Linked DNA regions of Homo sapiens: region 2 is linked to region 1. Evidence: fine-mapped expression QTL. A gene starts in region 1. The other region holds a variant in brackets. All regions are shown on one strand. Distances are from middle to middle. Region 1 holds the start of ERBIN (erbb2 interacting protein). Region 2 overlaps NLN (neurolysin).

Region 1 (8,334 bases):
CTACTTACTGTAGGAAGACAGTACATAATACATATAAGATACAAGCAATGTGTTAATCAACTGTTTTATGTTATCAGGCTTCTGGTCAGTAGTAGGCTTATTAGTAGTTGTTCAGTTTTGGGAGAGTCAAATGTTATATGCTCACATAGTTGGTTGGTGCCCCTAAATTCCATATTATTCAAGGGTCAACTGTATTGACAAGTGTATCCTGGATTCCATCCTCCTTTCTTGGTTTTGTAGAGACAAGGTCTCACCATGTTGTCCAGGCTGATCTTGAACCCCTAGGCTCAAGCAATCCTCCCGCCTCAGCCTCCAAAGTGCTGGGATTACAGGTGCGAGCCACTGCAACCGGCCAGATTCCATCCTCTTAAGGCCAGTGTATTAGGTGGCTCATTCTTACAGTATGAGTAAGCAGGACTTATTTAGCCATCAAAAGGGTCCTTTTATTGCCTGTAATCCTCTACTCTCTATATAACGCTCCAAGGAATGAGACTATATTTCCGTCTCCTATCAACTCAGCCTCAGCATATGTTATCTCTAGTTATCTCTATTTTTCCCTTCCAACAAAAGCTGCTTTGGGGAAACAATCTGATGAATTAGGTATAAATGACTAATAAGGATTAAAATATTACTTTTCCCAGGATTATGGTTTTGTGCTAGAGAAAAAAACTACTTAAAGGGATAAAACTCTAATGGCAGAATTTCAGGTGAGTTGGAGGGTTTTTGATTATAGGTACTTTTCTAGCCTAGATGGTAGTCTGTCAGATTGGTCCTGAGTGTGAGTATAAATTTTAAAAAGGCTAGGACCAGGGCAAGTCTTAGCCTAAAGCAGTGGCTTGATCAGTTAAGTTTAGAGAGGAGGGTTAGGTTTACTCGAATCTATGGCATCACATTTAAAGGGGTCTCGAATCAACCTGAGATTAGAAGCAACACTGGAATCCCAGAATCTAGCTGGTTTTCCACTAGTATGGGAGATATTCCATCCTGGGATGCTTTAGGAGAGTGACCCTTTCAGTTCAGAGCTATGCCACTGAGTTCTGATCAGGCGCAAAACGGTTTTTGAAAACGGAGCAAGAAATCTTCCCAGCGATGATTACAAATAGCTTGTACAATATGCTAACTTTAGCTTTTTATGCAATGGTTAAGATTCATTTTCACATAGATATCCAGCTTGGTAACACTGGCATAGCTGCTGCCATTTCCTAGCTTCCAGCGAATACTCTTACCTCTAATTCAGCACTGAATATATCTGAACACTTCAGTACTACCTGTAAATCTTCAACTTCTGCTGTATGCTAAATAACCTAACATCTGTATTAATTCCAGCAGTTCTTCAAGTAGTTAAAAATGCTCCCAACCTGAATAAAATGACTTGAATATCTTCGGCGTTATTTCAAGTGTTTGCAACTAATGTACAACTCATTTTGGTAAATGATTACTTGGTGGAATTTATGAACTCTTTCCATTGGCAAGCCAAAAAAAAAAAAAAAAAAAAGGTCTGTAGGGGATATAGCTCTTTATTCAAACTTGGTAATAAATAATTATCTCTAGAATACAGACGGAAGAACTGAACCAGGGACTTCAGGGACCCAGAGGCTAATTATCATCACTGTACACAGTTAAGTGCAGCAGAGAATGGGGGTGACGAATGGTTCGCTCCGCATTACGCTCCTTCTCTGGGTAAAACAAGGCCGTCTTTTCTGTGAACATATTTAAAGCAAGAACTGCAAAAACTGTGCAATGTTATGGTTGAGGCTTTCTATTTGCCATATGTGTTGACAGAATGCTTAAGAGTCTCTCTCCGCAATAAACGCGAACCCTGCCAGGCTGAATTATTAGGGCCAGCGCAATTCAACGACTGCACCACCACCGAACCGCTGGGGTTGGAAGCCTGCGTCGCATCGGAGCGTACCCATGTTTCTTCTAACAAAGGCACGATCTTGAGGCCATTTCGCGGGCCCTTTTCCCACTCCCAGCGCCAGCTTTGTCTCCCCGCCGGTATGAGGCTGAGACTTGGAGGAGGCTGAGCTGCGCCGCTGGGGAACAAGCTCGAAGGGCGGGCGTGGGAAGCTGCACCGCGCTGCCGCTGTGGTTTCCTGCGACCTGACCGTGCCATTAGAGGAAGTTGGAGTGCTGCAGCTGCAAGAGATACCTGCTGCCTTCAAATCAGGGCTGGACTCCAACAACCCCTGTGCACCGATTACTGTCGTACAAAGAAACTCCATCGGCCGGCGCGGCGGAGGCCTGTGGGCTCTCTATCTCTCTGGCTGGGCGCTGGGCCGCGAGCAGACAGCAGGGTCGGCGTTGCCAGCGTTCCCCACCCTGGGGGGCTCGGGAGTCCGGGAGTGCGGGGTCGGGGAGCGGGCAGGGAGCAGCGGGCAGGCCTCGAGGGGCCTGGGCCAGAGTGGGCCTCACGGCGCGCCTTGCACGCGAACCCACGGCCGCCGGCTGCCCCTCCCCCGGCCCCCGGCCCGCTGCCCCCAGCCGCCGACGTCGGCCCGCACCGCCCCCGCGCGCTGACTGGCCCGCGCAGGCCTCCTGCCCGGCTGTTGGCGGTTGGGGCGAAGCCGGCGGGAGGCCGCCCCGCCCCCGCCCCCGCCGCAGAGTCGCGGCGCGCAGCCTCTTCACCCGTCGCGGCCGGGGCGGTGGCGCTGTTGCCGCCGCGGCCTGTGAGGCAGTAACTCCCCTCCGCCCCTGCCCCATTCCTCCTCCTTTCTCTCCGCTCCCTCCGTCCTCCCTCCCCTCGCCGTCTCTCGCTCGAGTGAATGTGGCGCGGCGGCGCGGGACGCAGTCTCGGCCCCTGCCGCGGCCCCGCAAGCTCGTGAGGAGACGGAGCTGCCTCCTGCTCCCGCCCCCTGCGCGTCTCGGGGAGCCACCGCCGCTGGCGAAGGAGAACAAGCAGGGCAGCGGAGGGACGGTGGCGGGAAAACGGGAGAGGGAGGAGAAGAGGGTTCGAGGGCGAGTAGGGAAAGCGGGGAGGGACGGACGGAAGGACGGACGGCCCGACGGACGGCCCGGGGAGGGGGCCGCTATTGAGCCTGCCCGACTCCTCGGCTCCGGCTCCGGGTGGCGGCGGCAGCGGCGTCGCGGACGAAGGGCGCGGCAAGCGCTATCGAGACAATAACCCTGCCGCCCGGCTCTGGGGGCAACGGAGAGGAAGCGGTGGCGGCCTAGCGCGGCCGAGGCTCGCCGAGCGCCCGGGCAGCGTCCTCGCCCCCGCCGGCCGGGTGCTGCTGCCGTCCGGTGTGCCGGGCGCGCCGGTTGCCCGGAACCCGAGGCTCCCGGCGGCCGTCCCCTCCCCTCCCCCTCTCCGGTGCGCGCGGAGCTGGTTTTCCGGGTTCCCCTGGACGGAGCTGGATCCTGCTTCTCGCCAAGGCAGGAAGTGAGTTTCGCACTGCAATTCCGGGCGGTGTCACGAGTGAAAAGTTTTGTTTTTTTTTTTTTCGGCGGAGATCCTCGTTGGGGCTGGGAAACTCCTGCAAAACTCGAGACCAGGAAGCCAGCCCGCACCCCAACCCCCACCAAAGCCACCTACTCTTCTTCTGTGGGAGGCCAGTCCACATCCGCTCTCACCCGAGAGAGATATTCAGCTGGATCCAAAGTGACTGATGAAGGGAAGGAAATCATGTCAAGCGAAGCCTTGAAAAAGCTGCCCTGAGACGGTGTCCCGCCGAAAGGTAATTTTCACGAAAAGTGTCTCTGAGTCACAAAGTTCATGGGACTTTGTGACTCGGAAAAGAGATGATTCTTTAGTGTTTTTCACTCTTCTCCAAGTTGCCCTAAACCCTCCTTTTCTCATATCGAAGCGGTTAATAATTGAGGGGCTAAATAATCGAACTGCACCCCACCGCGTCCCTTCTCCCCCCTGCCCCCCCCACCATCTGGACTTTGAATTTTTTGGAAGAGGTTGTAAGAATGCGGTGGGACGAAAAGTTTTTAGTAATCCGAAGAACGATTGCCTTTGTTCAGCACAGGGGCCAGAAGTTTTGGCTTTCTGGAACGTATAGAGTGTATATTAAGTTGCTCAGCCAGGCACCTTCTGTTTGGGAAGAAAGTTTGGTCGCTGCAGTGAGTGATTTGCTGTTATTGAGATGGCTGCCGCGTTTGTTTATACTCATACCGATTATATTGGCGCTTGCGTTAATTGTATATAGAGGTATTTATTTTTATTTTTTTATTTCCAACCCTGATCAGTATATTTAGTTAGATTTTAGAAACCAAAAAATCTTGCCATTCTTAGTTGTTTTTCAGGGTGAGTAATATATTTCTTTAGTTGTGTGTAGTGTGTGTTTTTCAGACGTTTAGCGCCGTATAACTTGTTTAATTAATTGAAAGCAAGGATCGACTAGGCTTTTCTTGTAACTGATCCATTACGAAGAAAAAAGGAGTAAGGACTAAGAATAGGGAGAGATAATTAAACAACATTAACAACCTGTAAGACGTTTAATAGGACTTCTGTACAGTTCAGAACAGACGATGGGAGGGGAAGTAAAACGCTTAAAACGATTTTCAAGGGAATCACAGTGATTGTGATAAAAAGCTGTGCTTTTCGAGTAGTATGGTCTTTACATTTTTGTGTTGTCCCAAATGTTTTTGGTCGGTTCTGCATAAATAGTGATAGGTTCTGCCTACATCTGTGGGGGCAGGATTCATGAAGCATGGCAGACATTCCACCAGTCAGAGCTATGAACACTTCTGAACCAATGGGGACTAGTTTTGATAGCAGTAAACCCAAAGTTTTTTTCAGTGGTGTTTTAGTCTTTTTCTGTTTACTTTTTTTCCCGGTATTTTTGCGGTACAGGGAGGTGAAATACAATACTGTACTTTTGAATATATATTGAATAAATTTGGTAATCCTGTTGGTAGGTATATCCTAAATATATATTGATGTTTAGATTGCCTATGCTGTCTCACGTAATGACCGGAAACCCGAGGAGAGAGTTGATTTTCTTTAGTTCAAAGAGAAAAAATAAGTTTTAAAGATCAGGATCAAATTATTTCACAATTTGTTCTTTGCTACTTCAGCTTCATTAAGTACATCTCCAAAGGCAGTCCTTTATTTATTACTGTAGTTTTGATTTTTTTTTTCCTCCCCGGGGCATGGTCTCAGGAGATTCTTTTTTTTTTTCATTGTTGGTAAGATTTGTGAACCATGGAATAATTCTTGTTAAGTCAAACTAGCTTTATCAAAGAATTTAAAGTGCATAACTCATCTACTTTATGATTTTGGAACGTATCATTAGGCTGCAAAAGAGGTTATTCTTGGGCATCTGAAAGAGGTGAACAAAATAAATGGCATTGAACTTCAGTTTCCTTATATGGCTTATACTTGGCTTCAAAAGCAACAAAACCTTAATAGAGCAAGTCCCTTACAGAGAATTATCGCTTTATGAAGATGGTTATTTATTAGTAAATTTTGTATAAAAAAAGTATTGTAGCACTTGAAAATGACTATTTAAGCCTCTATTTTTAGATTTAGTTCTTGATTTTTTTTCTCAGGAGAAGAGTAGTATGTTTCGATGCAGACAACACGTTTTATGAAGTGAGGTGTTCACCTTTGTGTTTCTTTTTTTTCTCCTCAACAAGGCATAATTTACTTCGTAGTTTTCTTGGAATTCTGTTAGTTTATCACCGAATTAACTTAAATTTTAGGTTTTATACTATTGTGAAACTATAAGTATTTTCGAAGCTTTGTTTAAACTGTGACAAAGGTTTGAAAAGAGGTTAATAGAGGAGTCATCCGTTAAAATATTTTTAAATGGCTTCAAAATTTGGATATTCTTCTAGTATGGTGTGGATTTTCAAAGATTAAATTGGCAAATAGAGAGTACTTCCAAAGTCTATATTGCACAAAATACACACTTAAAGGCTCTGTTTATTGAAGGTAATCATGAATTTTCAGGACTTCAACTGATTCAAGTAGTACTGTTACGAGGTCTCCTTGCCATTTGAGATCAAACTATTGTAAACTTTATGTATAAAAAGCTTACAGAGGTACAAACATGGAAACCAAATTTTTATTGTATGCTGTTTCTTAATGAAGTGATAACTATAGATACATTAACATATATCATTGGCAAATCTCAAAAATCGATTATTTTACACATTGTTGGTATTGCACTATTAGTAGTAAATAATACCCTTTAAGAAATAGTTAAAAGTTTCAGAAAATAGGTGTATATTTCAAAATTACTTATTTGAAATAATTGCTTACGGATAATACGATTTAGACTTTAAGCTGCTTTTGTTTTGGAAATAGATTATGGCAGTACTTACAGAGTATTTGGGATTATGCAGAATTTTAGTGATGCTGGGTAGCAGTTTCTTTTTTATTTTTCGTAATTGCTGCTTATCCAGATTCTCCTTACATACCCTACTTGGCTGCTTGCATTTTGACTCTTTGCCTTGCTCATTCATTTCTTGAATTTGTTACATGCTTGCTTCCGTTTTCTTTTTCTGGGAATACATCTCTATTATAAACCTCTAAAGATGTCTTTGTCTTTTCCTCTTTTTTTTTTTTTTTTTTTTCGAGATGGAGTCTTGCTCTGTTGCCTAGGCTGGAGTGCAGTGGCACAATCTCGACTCACCACAACCTCCACCTCCCGGGTTCCAGCGATTCTCCTGCTTCAGCCTCCCAAGTAGCTGGGATTACAAGCGCACATCATCATGCCTAGCTAATTTTTGTATTTTTAGTAGAGACAGGTTTTGCCATGTTGGCCAGGCTGGTCTCGAACTCCCGACCTCAGGTGATCTGCCCACCTTGGCCTACCGAAGTGCTGGGATTACAGGTGTGAGCCACTGAGCCCGGCCTACTGCTAACTCCCATTTTTCAGATTCACTTTTTAGCTGTCTCTTCTTAGGTTTCCTAATTGTAAAAAAGAAACTTAGCTGCTATTCAGCTTTCTCTTCTGATTCCCTTAGCTTCCTATATTTATAGTTAGCTTCATTTACCTAGCCTTATTTTCTCTGTGTTCAGTTGGTCGTTCTTAATTATATTTTGCCATTTCCCTCTTTTCCAAACTGTTAGTCTATGTTTATCACCTCAAAAAACTGTTCAAAACATGCAGTGGAAAAAGTTTATCTGATCTTATTTTATTAGCCCATTTAATTCTGAATATCCCCTTTGCATTTCAACTAAGTGTACATGCTGGTATTTTAACTTTATATTCATCAGTATATTGCTTTGTTTATTTTGAGATGGAGTCTTGCTCTGTCGCCCAGGCTGGAGTGCAGTGGCAAGATTTTGGCCCACTGCAAGCTGCGCCTCCCCCAGGTTCACGCCATTCTCCTGCCTCAGCCTCCCGAGTAGCTGGGACTAGAGGCGCCCGCCACTGTGCCCGGCTAATTTTTTTGTATTTTTAGTAGAGACGCGGTTTCACCGTGTTAGCCAGGATGGTCTTTATCTCCTGACCTCGTGATCTGCCCACCTCGGCCTCTCAAAGTGCTGGGATTACAGGCATGAGCCACCGCTCCCGGCCATTGTTTGTTTTATACTTTGTTTTCTCAGTTTTCCTTTTTCTCTTTAGTGTTCTTAAAATTGACTGTTAAGATAATACCAGGTTGTTATTTATTCTTATGTATTAAGACTTTGTAACCCTCTCTACCTTCTTGTTTTATTATACTTTTGGCCTCTTAAAACATACAGATATATTTCTCTGTTCCTTCTTCTCTGTACCTTCCTCTTCTGTCCTACCTTTCAAGTTAGATGTCTTCTCTGACACAGAATCCCTAAAATTTTGAAATTATCTTTCTTTGATTTCATGAAATAAGCACAATAGTACTCTATCACTCTATTTTTGTCACTTCAAATTTTGTTCCAGACACCATTGAATGAAGGTCTTGCCAGGCTTTAAGTGATAGTGTGGAAGACGATAGAAAAGGAGAATATCTAAAAATTCACTTTGTGGAAGACGATAGAAAAGGAGAATATCTAAAAATTCACTTAATAAGACTCTACTTATCTGGAGGTTATTTATTATAGCTTTAAAAGCATATTGAATGTAGTAGAAAAACTAGAAAATAAAAAATGACATCTCCTTAATCACAACAGGTATGACAGAGTCTGGGGACTTCACTTTTAGGGCCATTATTATTCAGAGCCCATTTACTTATGTACATAATGAGCTGTTTTTGGTTCTTTGGTATCCCAGAAGGCGTGAGAAAGGTACGTTTACAGCATTGTGAAGTTATGACCTGTGGTGTTACAGTGAAGCAATAGAAAAATGGAAAGATGACTGAATAACTTAGAAAATAATCTGGGACAACTTACTTTGAGGCTAAGTGCCTTGTACATTTCATTTCCCTGTAGGAGGATTCACTCTGTTATAATATGGT
Region 2 (8,334 bases), 130 kb before region 1:
GCCAAGACCATACCTAGTCAGGCAGAATATGCAGGCTCAGAAGAAGATAGGCAGCTGAGACTTACTGAACATGTACCAGGTGCCAGGAAATATACACACTGCTTTACATTCATTCATTTTTATCTTCACAGTACGCTCTGAAGTAGATGGGTACTGTTATTGTCCCCATTTTCCAAATGAAAAATCTGAGACATAGAAGGACCTGCCCAGGGTCCAATAGTCATGACCTAACTGCTCTACTTTATTGCGTATTTGCGCTCCCATTCCATGCACTGGAGACAATACTATTATTCATGGTCTGAATTTGGTCTTCCAAATGTGTTGGATGGGCTTCCTTCTCCTAAGTTTATTAAATGACACTCTAATAATGTAGAATGAATGCAAATGTGGAATGAATGCATTTATTTATTTCTAGGTTTCCCTCTGTGTGAGTTGACTGTTGAGGTTTCAGTCCTAAAATGCAGTGAACTCCCTATCATCAGCTTTGTGGCCTCTGCTGTCACCCTGTCTCCCTAGCCCCAACTCCTGCACACTGTTTTAGTTTGTGACTTTAACATCAGATGTAATTTCTTTCAAGATCTTCTTTTTGTTATTTTATTTGTTTGCTTATACATATATAAACAATACATACATGTGTAAATAAAATAAATGAAGTCATAAACCAAAATATGAATGTATTAATGCATAATGTTTATTTGGGAATGTGCTTATTTCTTTCATTTGCTTAGTGCATTTTCTACATGTATTATTTTTTAAAAATCAAAATATTTTTTAAAGAGAGGGATGTTTAGTTTTTTGTTTGTTTGTTTTTGGAGACAGGGTCTCACTCTGTCACTCAGGCTGGAGTGCAGTGGCACAATCATGGCTCACTGTAGCCTCCACCTCTCCAGGCTCAGTTGATCCTCCCACCTCAGCTTCCTAAGTAGCTGGGACCACAGGCATGTACCACTACACCAGGGTAATTTTTGTATTTTTTGTAGAGATAGGGTTTCACCATGTTGCCCAGGCTGATCTTGAATTCCTGGGCTCAAGCAATCTGCCCAAGTCAGCCTCCCAAAATGCTGGGATTACAGGTGTGAGCCACCATGCCCAGCCTATATAGTTATTTTAAGAAACAGAATTATTGACTATGTGTCTGACATGTCATATTACCTATGGTAGGATGGGGTTCAAAAGAAAGAAAAGTTATAGTATCTTGAATGTTCAGAATTTAGCTTGAGGACATGAAGTGCAACAAATAAAAAATTAAAAGCATAATATTAAGTAAAATAATAAAAGTAGAATTTTAAGTATTGAAAAAAAGTAGAGAGGTGAGAGGTTGAGGTCAAGAATGATAACAAGGGAAAATATCTTTGAGTTGTTTAAGTTTGAATCTTCATACAGAAATATTCTCCCCAGGGCTTCATCCATTTCACAGATATTTATTGGACATCCTCTACTTTCTGTGCTGGATTTTGGAAATACAGTGGTGAATAAAGCATACTCTCTAGCATTTGAGTTTGAATAGTACCTTTATTTGTTTTCATCTTAAAAAGAAGCAGTTTAAATAAGATGTACCTGATCAGGAAGGTACAGCTAGTTTGGGAGCAAGCCTGTGAACTTAATATGCAGTATTCAAAACTTCTCCAAATTATGTTATTTCCTGGGTCCTTTAAAGGATGATGGTGATACTGAACTGTTGAACTATAGGGCAGTTGTGAAGATAAAGAAGGATGTCAACACATTATCTTTATTACTATTATTTCCAGTGATCACTCGGTATGTGTGAAGTTAAAACTATGGCCTTTTAATCATCTGTTTATGGCAAAGTCTAGTAGATAGTGGTCACTTTAAAAAAAAAATACCTTGCCTTGTTATATAAACTTCTCCATCATCCCTGGATTTAGGGATAGATTAGACAGGCCAGGATGTGGAATGACTGCTAAGAAATCAGTACTGGATCACCTCAGACAGCCAATGTCAGGTCTCCTGAGGCCTGTCCTTTTTCATGAGCACAATACACTTATTGATTTCAGCAACTGCCTTTTCTTTGAGTTGGGATTTGCTATCATGGAAATAACACTTAGTTGTAGCCATTAAAAGCAACTGTTCTCTTAATTAGAACAGTCACATGTAAGATTTAGGCCTTTAAATACAGCAGAAGCTCATAGGACTTCCGAAGCTTCAATTTATATGATTCTGTTCCTGTTCTTATTGCACTGTAGGAATTGCAAAGTTAATCTCTATAGCATCAAGTTATCTGTTGTAAAAATCTGAAACAGAGTACATTTTAGACATCCTATTGTTTGTTTAAAAGATAGTAAAGACAGCCAGGCATGGTGGCTCATGCCTATAATCCCAGCACTTTGGGAGGCAGAGGCGGGCAGATCACGAGGTCAGGAGATCGAGACCATCCTGGCTAACACGGTGAAACCCCATCTCTACTAAAAATACAAAAAATTAGCTGGACATGGTGGCGGGCGCCTGTAGCCCCAGCTACTCGGGAGGCAGGAGAATGGCGTGAACCCAGGAGGCGGAGCTTGCAGTGAGCTGAGATTCTGCCACTGCACTCTAGCTTGGATAGTGAAGAAAACTCTCTTATTTATTTATTTATTTATTTATTTATTTATTTATTTTGAGGCAGGGTCTCACTCTGTTGCCCAGGCTGGAGTGCAGTGGCATGATCATGGCTCACTGCAGCCTCAGCCTCCACCTTCCAGGCTCAAGCGATCCTCCCATCTCAGACTCCTGAGTAGCTGAGACTACAGGAATGCACCACCATGCCCAGCTAATTTTTTTATAGTTTTTGTAGAGATGGGGTTTCACAATGTTGCCCAGGCTGATCTTGAACTCCTGAGCTCAATCAATTCTCCTGCTTCTACGTCTCAAAGTGCTGGAATTACAGGCATGAGCCACTGTGCCTGGCCAAAATCGTGTATTTAGACAACTGTCTTCCTCTCAAGAACTTCTAACCAAACAGGAATCTAAGTTTACATTGTTTTCTAGGCTTTTGTTATCTAAATATTTCCTGCAGCAAAAAAAATGCCCTAAAACTCTTTGAAGTGTCAGCTACAAAAAATATTTGTTAATTGGATTATTTTGTGTGTTTTTTACTGCTTTATCTGGGAAATACATTAGCATCAATAGTTATCATGGCCCATAAGCAACTATTACCAACACCTTCAAATTGTTTGCATTGATAACTATATGAAGTACTTTTTTAGGGTTCTTTGGATTATAGTTTAAAAACTGGGGAATGGTATTTGTTGGCTGGTCAACAGTGAGTAATGGTTCAGCACCCATGCTGTTTTGTATAAGATCCATTAGGCTGCTAGATTGTGAGTCTTACCCATGGTTTCTGTGTGGACATACACAGTGGCTGACTGCATTCCTTTCTCTTGAGAATTCGGTTGTTTGCTGCAAATTGAGCTTTCAAATTTTGTAGGTTCTTTGTCCTCCTTTTTTGAAAAATATTTAAATGATGTTGCCCAAAGGGCTCACAGAGAAACAGCATGACCAACTTTCGGGAAATTAGTAAGCACTAGGGTTATTTTTAGCTTTTTCT[C/G]CTTACAAACATTTCCTTTTGTTCTTTAGAAGACATTGTTGATCTTTCATTCATTTGCTGTGCTGTCTCCCCAGCTACAAAATGGCTTTTGAATAGAATAAGCGCTCTCTTCTCTACTCTGCATGACATTAACTGTGTTCTTATTTTATTCAGTTTTTACTCTAGCTCATGAATTATCATTTGTGTATTTTTTTTCTGGATATTGAATCCTCCCCTACACACACAAACACACATACACACATTTTTGTTGTCATTTGGGGTTGACTTCCTCCCTCATATGCAACTAATGACTGAAAAATCTTCATACAAGCAGGATATACAAAGTCTGTATTTTTGTCAGTATATCATATGGTGGTGGCTGATGGTGTGATTTGGCCTTTATTTGCTGTTAGTACCTATTTAAAAACCATCACCTTGAGAAAATTGTGCAGTAGTGTCACGGGATCCTTGGGGTGTCGCATCACCAGCCAGAAACCTCTGTGACCAGTGGTACCTTTGCCCAGGTTTTGCTTGGGCCCACTGGGCCCACTCAGCCTGGCAGGCTGCACTCAGCTCGCACTACTGGCCTGGATCCCATGCCTGCCAAGGGCAAGTGGAGTGGCAAGGGGTGCATGAGTGAGCAAGCATGGGGTCCAGCCACTGCACACAGCCAGGCATGCTGGCTATGGCGGTGCAAGCAGCTCCAGGTGCCAGCACAGGCGCTGGAGGCAAGGCTGCCTGCAAGGCTGCAGCCGGACCAGGCGTACCACAAGCAGCTTTCACAGCTGGCACTGGGGAACACAGTGGCACCCAGAAGCTTAGAGACGCTGGGAACCACATAGCCCCAAAGAAGGTATCACAGCCCTAGCTCAGGGAGCTCCTAGGTCTGGGTTCCCTGAAGGGCCACAACTCTTCTCTCCTTGTTGCCCACAGCATGGCGAGCAAGGGGCATGTTTCAGCCCTGTTTGTGTTATAGCCCTTTAGGCCCCACCATTCGGCAGGTCCCGAGTTCCTGTCCCGTGCCCAGGAAGAAGGAGGTATACGAACAAGTGGAGGGTGAGCAAGGCAAAGAGGAGCTTTACTGAGCAATAGAACAGCTTAGAGGAGACGCACAATGGGTAGCTCCTCTCCACAACCAGGGTGTACCAATGTGAGTGTTCAGCTATCAGCAGAGAGTAGACCCTGGAGTGGATAGCTCCTCTCCACAGGTAGGTCATCCTGTAGAGGGTTCAGCTCTCAGCAGAGAAGAGACCCTGGGGTGGGTAGTTCCTCTCCGCAGCTGGTTTGTCCCACCATCTTTTCAACTTTCAGTATAGAGGAGACCCTGGGATATGTAGCTCCTCTTTACAGCTGATCGTCCCGATGTCTGCTCAGCTGTCAGCAGAGAGGAGACCCTGGAGTGGGTAGCTCCTCTCTGCAGCTGGTTGTCCTGACATCAGCTCAAGTCTGGCTGAGTCCAGTGTTTTTATGGGCTTCAGAGGGGAGAACGTGCAGGCTGATTGGCTTATGGGTGGGCCTGGCAAAAGCACCATAAGTTCCCACTCTGGTCTGCAGGACTGGCAGCCTGGCCCCCAGGCTTCAGGCCTTCCCTGGCTTGAAGGTGGGGCTTCACCAGGGACCCACCCCTTTCTGCCCAGGAACCTGTCTGCCTGCTACCACTGTTTATGGTGCCCAGGCTGTTCATGCAGAGGGGCACCTGCAGGCCAGTGCCAAGCCACGCTCAGTTCCCCCCTCAGCTTCCCTCCCATGCTCGTCAGTGCCCAAAGTTCAGTAGGGGCTGAGGCAGCAAGGGGCTGGCATGTCAGTGCTGTCCTGAGCATATGGACACCTGGCCAGGTTGTGACAGTGCCTGGGATTGACCTCAGCTTTGCTCCAAGATCAGAGCAGGTGCCGCTAATGGGTTGGGGGAGCTTCCGGGGCCCCTGAGAGTACAGAGATGCCTGGGTCCGCAGCCATGGCTGGGTAGCTGTAGCTACACCCAGGAGGGTGGGGCTCCTGCCTTCTTCCAGCCCCTAAGAGTACAGGGATGCCCAGGTCTGCATCTATGGCTTAGGAAACCGCAGCTGTGCCCAGGAGGGTAGGGCTCCTGCCTGCTCCTGGCCCCCAAGAGCACAGGCATACCTGGGTCAGCAGCCACAGCTTGGGCAGCTGCAGCTATGCCCAGGAGGGTGAGGCTCTTGCCCTGCCAACTTAGAAGGGGGAAGGACTTTTCTGCCTGTTCCTGGCTCCTGCCAGCTCCATGGAGCGCACAGCCCCAGCCACGCTTCCCCCACTGCAGCCGAGATGGGCCACCACTGCCATCAGTAGTATTGCAGAATCGCAAGTTCAGGATAGATGGTTACAAAGGCTGGTCTTTACACTTCAGCTTCATGTTTGATCTTTGAAAAATCTTCCAGTATAAAGAAGAAGTCAAATTTCTAAGGAAGCACACTGAAAACTCACTTTAACTCTTCACATAAAGGAGGGTTTGATATAAGACTTTTGTATTTTAGATCCCATCCAAGAGGATTTAGTCATTTTGTAATATCATTTAACCTTTTTTTTCCATTTTACTCTAAGATACGGAGACAGTTAGCATTTGTGGTTAAGATTGTGGGTTATGAAGTCAGACTGCCTGGTTTCAAATTGAAGTTACATCATTAATCTCTGTATGCTTTAGTTTCCTTATCTCAAAAAGGGAGATAATAGTTACTTCATACAATTATTTTGGGATTTAAATCAGATAATCCATGTAAAGAGCCCATGATATGAGCACACCTCATTTTATTGTCCTTCACTTATTGTACTTCACAGATATTTTGTTTTTTACAAATTGAAGGTTTATGTCAACCATGCTTTAAACAAGTGTGTTAGTGCTGTTTTTCCAACAGCATGTGCTTACTTCTTGTCTCTGTTCACGTTTTGGGATTCTCACAATATTTCACTTTTTTCTTTGTTTTTGATGGAGTCACACCCTGTTGCTCAGGTTGGAGTCCAGTGGTGCAGTCTCAGCTCACTGCAACCTCCACCTCCTGGGTTCAAGCAATCTCCTGTCTCAGCCTCCTAAGTAGCTGGGATTACAGGCACATACCACCACACCCAGCTAATTTTTTTTTGTATTTTTAGTAGACATGGGTTCACCGTGTGGGCCAAGCTGATCTTGATCTCCTGGCCTCAAATGATCTGCCTACCTCGGCCTTCTGAAGTTCTGGGATTACAGATGTGAGCTACCACACCCGGACAATTTTTTCATTGTTATTGTGTCTGTTATGGTGATCTGTGATCAGTGATTTCCTTTTTTATGAAATAGAGACAGGGTCTTGCCATGTTGCCCAGGCAAGTCTGTCAGTGCAATTTTTCCAACAGAATGTGCTCCCTTCATGTCTCTATGTCACATTTTTGTAATTCTCACAGTATTTCAGACTTTTCCATTATTTTTATATCTGTTATTGTGACCAGCAATCTTTGATATTACTATTGCAATTGTTTTGAGGCAACACAAATCATGCTCTTTATAAGAGAGTGAACTTAATTGATGAATGTTATATGTATACTGACTGCTCCACCGGCCATTTCCCATTTCTCACCCCCTCTTTTGGCCTCCTATCTGAGACTCAACAATGTTGAAATTAGATTAGTCAATAACCCTACAATGATCTGTAAGTGTTCAAGTGAAAGGAAGAGTCATAAGTCTTTTGCTTTAAATCAAAAGCTAGAAATGATCAAACTTCACGAGGGAGGCATGTCAAAAGATGAGATAGGCCTCTTGTGCCAGTCAGTCAAGTTATGAAACAAAGGAAAAAGTTCCTGAAAGTTATTACAAGTGCTACTCCAATGAACACACAAATAATAAGAAAGCAAAATAGACTTGTTGCTGAGTGGAGAAAGTTTTAGTGGTCTGGGTAGAAGATGAAACCAGCTACAACATTCCCTTAAGACAAAGTCTAATCCAGAGCAAGACCCTAACTCCCATTCTATGAAGCTGAGAGAAGTGAGGAAGCTGCAGAAGAAAAGTTGGAAGGTAGCAGAGGTTGGTTCATGAGTTTTAAAGAAAGAAGCTGTTTCCATAACATAAAAGTGCAAGGTGAAGCAGCAATTGCTGATTTAGAAGCTGTGGCAAGTTATCCAGAAGATCTAGTTAAGATCATTGATGAATGTGGCTACACTAAATGACAGATCTTCCATGTAGATGAAATAGCCTTCTATTGGTAGAAGATGCCGTCTAGGACTTTCAGGAATGCTAGAGAGATGTCAATGCCTGGCTTGAAAGCTTCAAGGGACAGGCTGACTCTCCTCTTAGGAGTTAATGCAGCTGGTGACTTGAAGTTGAAGCCAATGCTTATTTACCATTCTGAAAATTCTAGAGCCCTTAAGAATTATGCTGAATCCACTCTGCCTGTGCCCTATAAATGAAACAACAAAGCCTGGATGACAACACATCTGTTTACAGCATGGTTTACTGACTATTTTAAGCCACTGTTGAGATCTACTACTCAAAAAAAAAAGATTCCTTTCAAAATATTACCACTCCTTGACAAAGCACCTGGTCAGACAAGAGCTTGGATGGAGATGTTCCAGAAGATTATGTTGTTTTCATGCCTGCTAACACAACAGCCATTCTGCTGTCCATGGATCGAGGAGTAATTTCAACTTTCAAGTCTTATTATTATGAGAAATACATTTCATAAGACTACAGCTGCCATATATAGTAATTTCTCTGAGGGATCTTGGCAAAGTACATTGACAACCTTCTGGAAAGGATTCACCATTCCAAATGCCATTAAGAACATGCATGATTCATGGGAAGAGATCAAAATATCAACATTAACAGA

What was found.
Region 2: its variant is fine-mapped to the expression of ERBIN in tibial nerve (GTEx, PIP 0.98).

What each region holds. Positions count from the first base shown.
Region 1 is chr5:65,923,130-65,931,463 of GRCh38, forward strand. It overlaps ERBIN (erbb2 interacting protein), which reads left to right and starts at 3,446. Exons shown (of 26, transcript NM_001253697.2): 1 at 3,446-3,677. RefSeq lists enhancers at 1,546-2,170, 1,670-1,889, 2,795-3,419, 3,380-3,599 and a silencer at 2,210-3,299.
Region 2 is chr5:65,798,087-65,806,420 of GRCh38, forward strand. All of the region lies in intron 9 of NLN (neurolysin), which reads left to right. Among named protein-coding and RNA genes, the nearest start is that of NLN, 80 kb to the left of the region's middle. The variant C/G (reference allele first, on the strand shown) is at 3,545.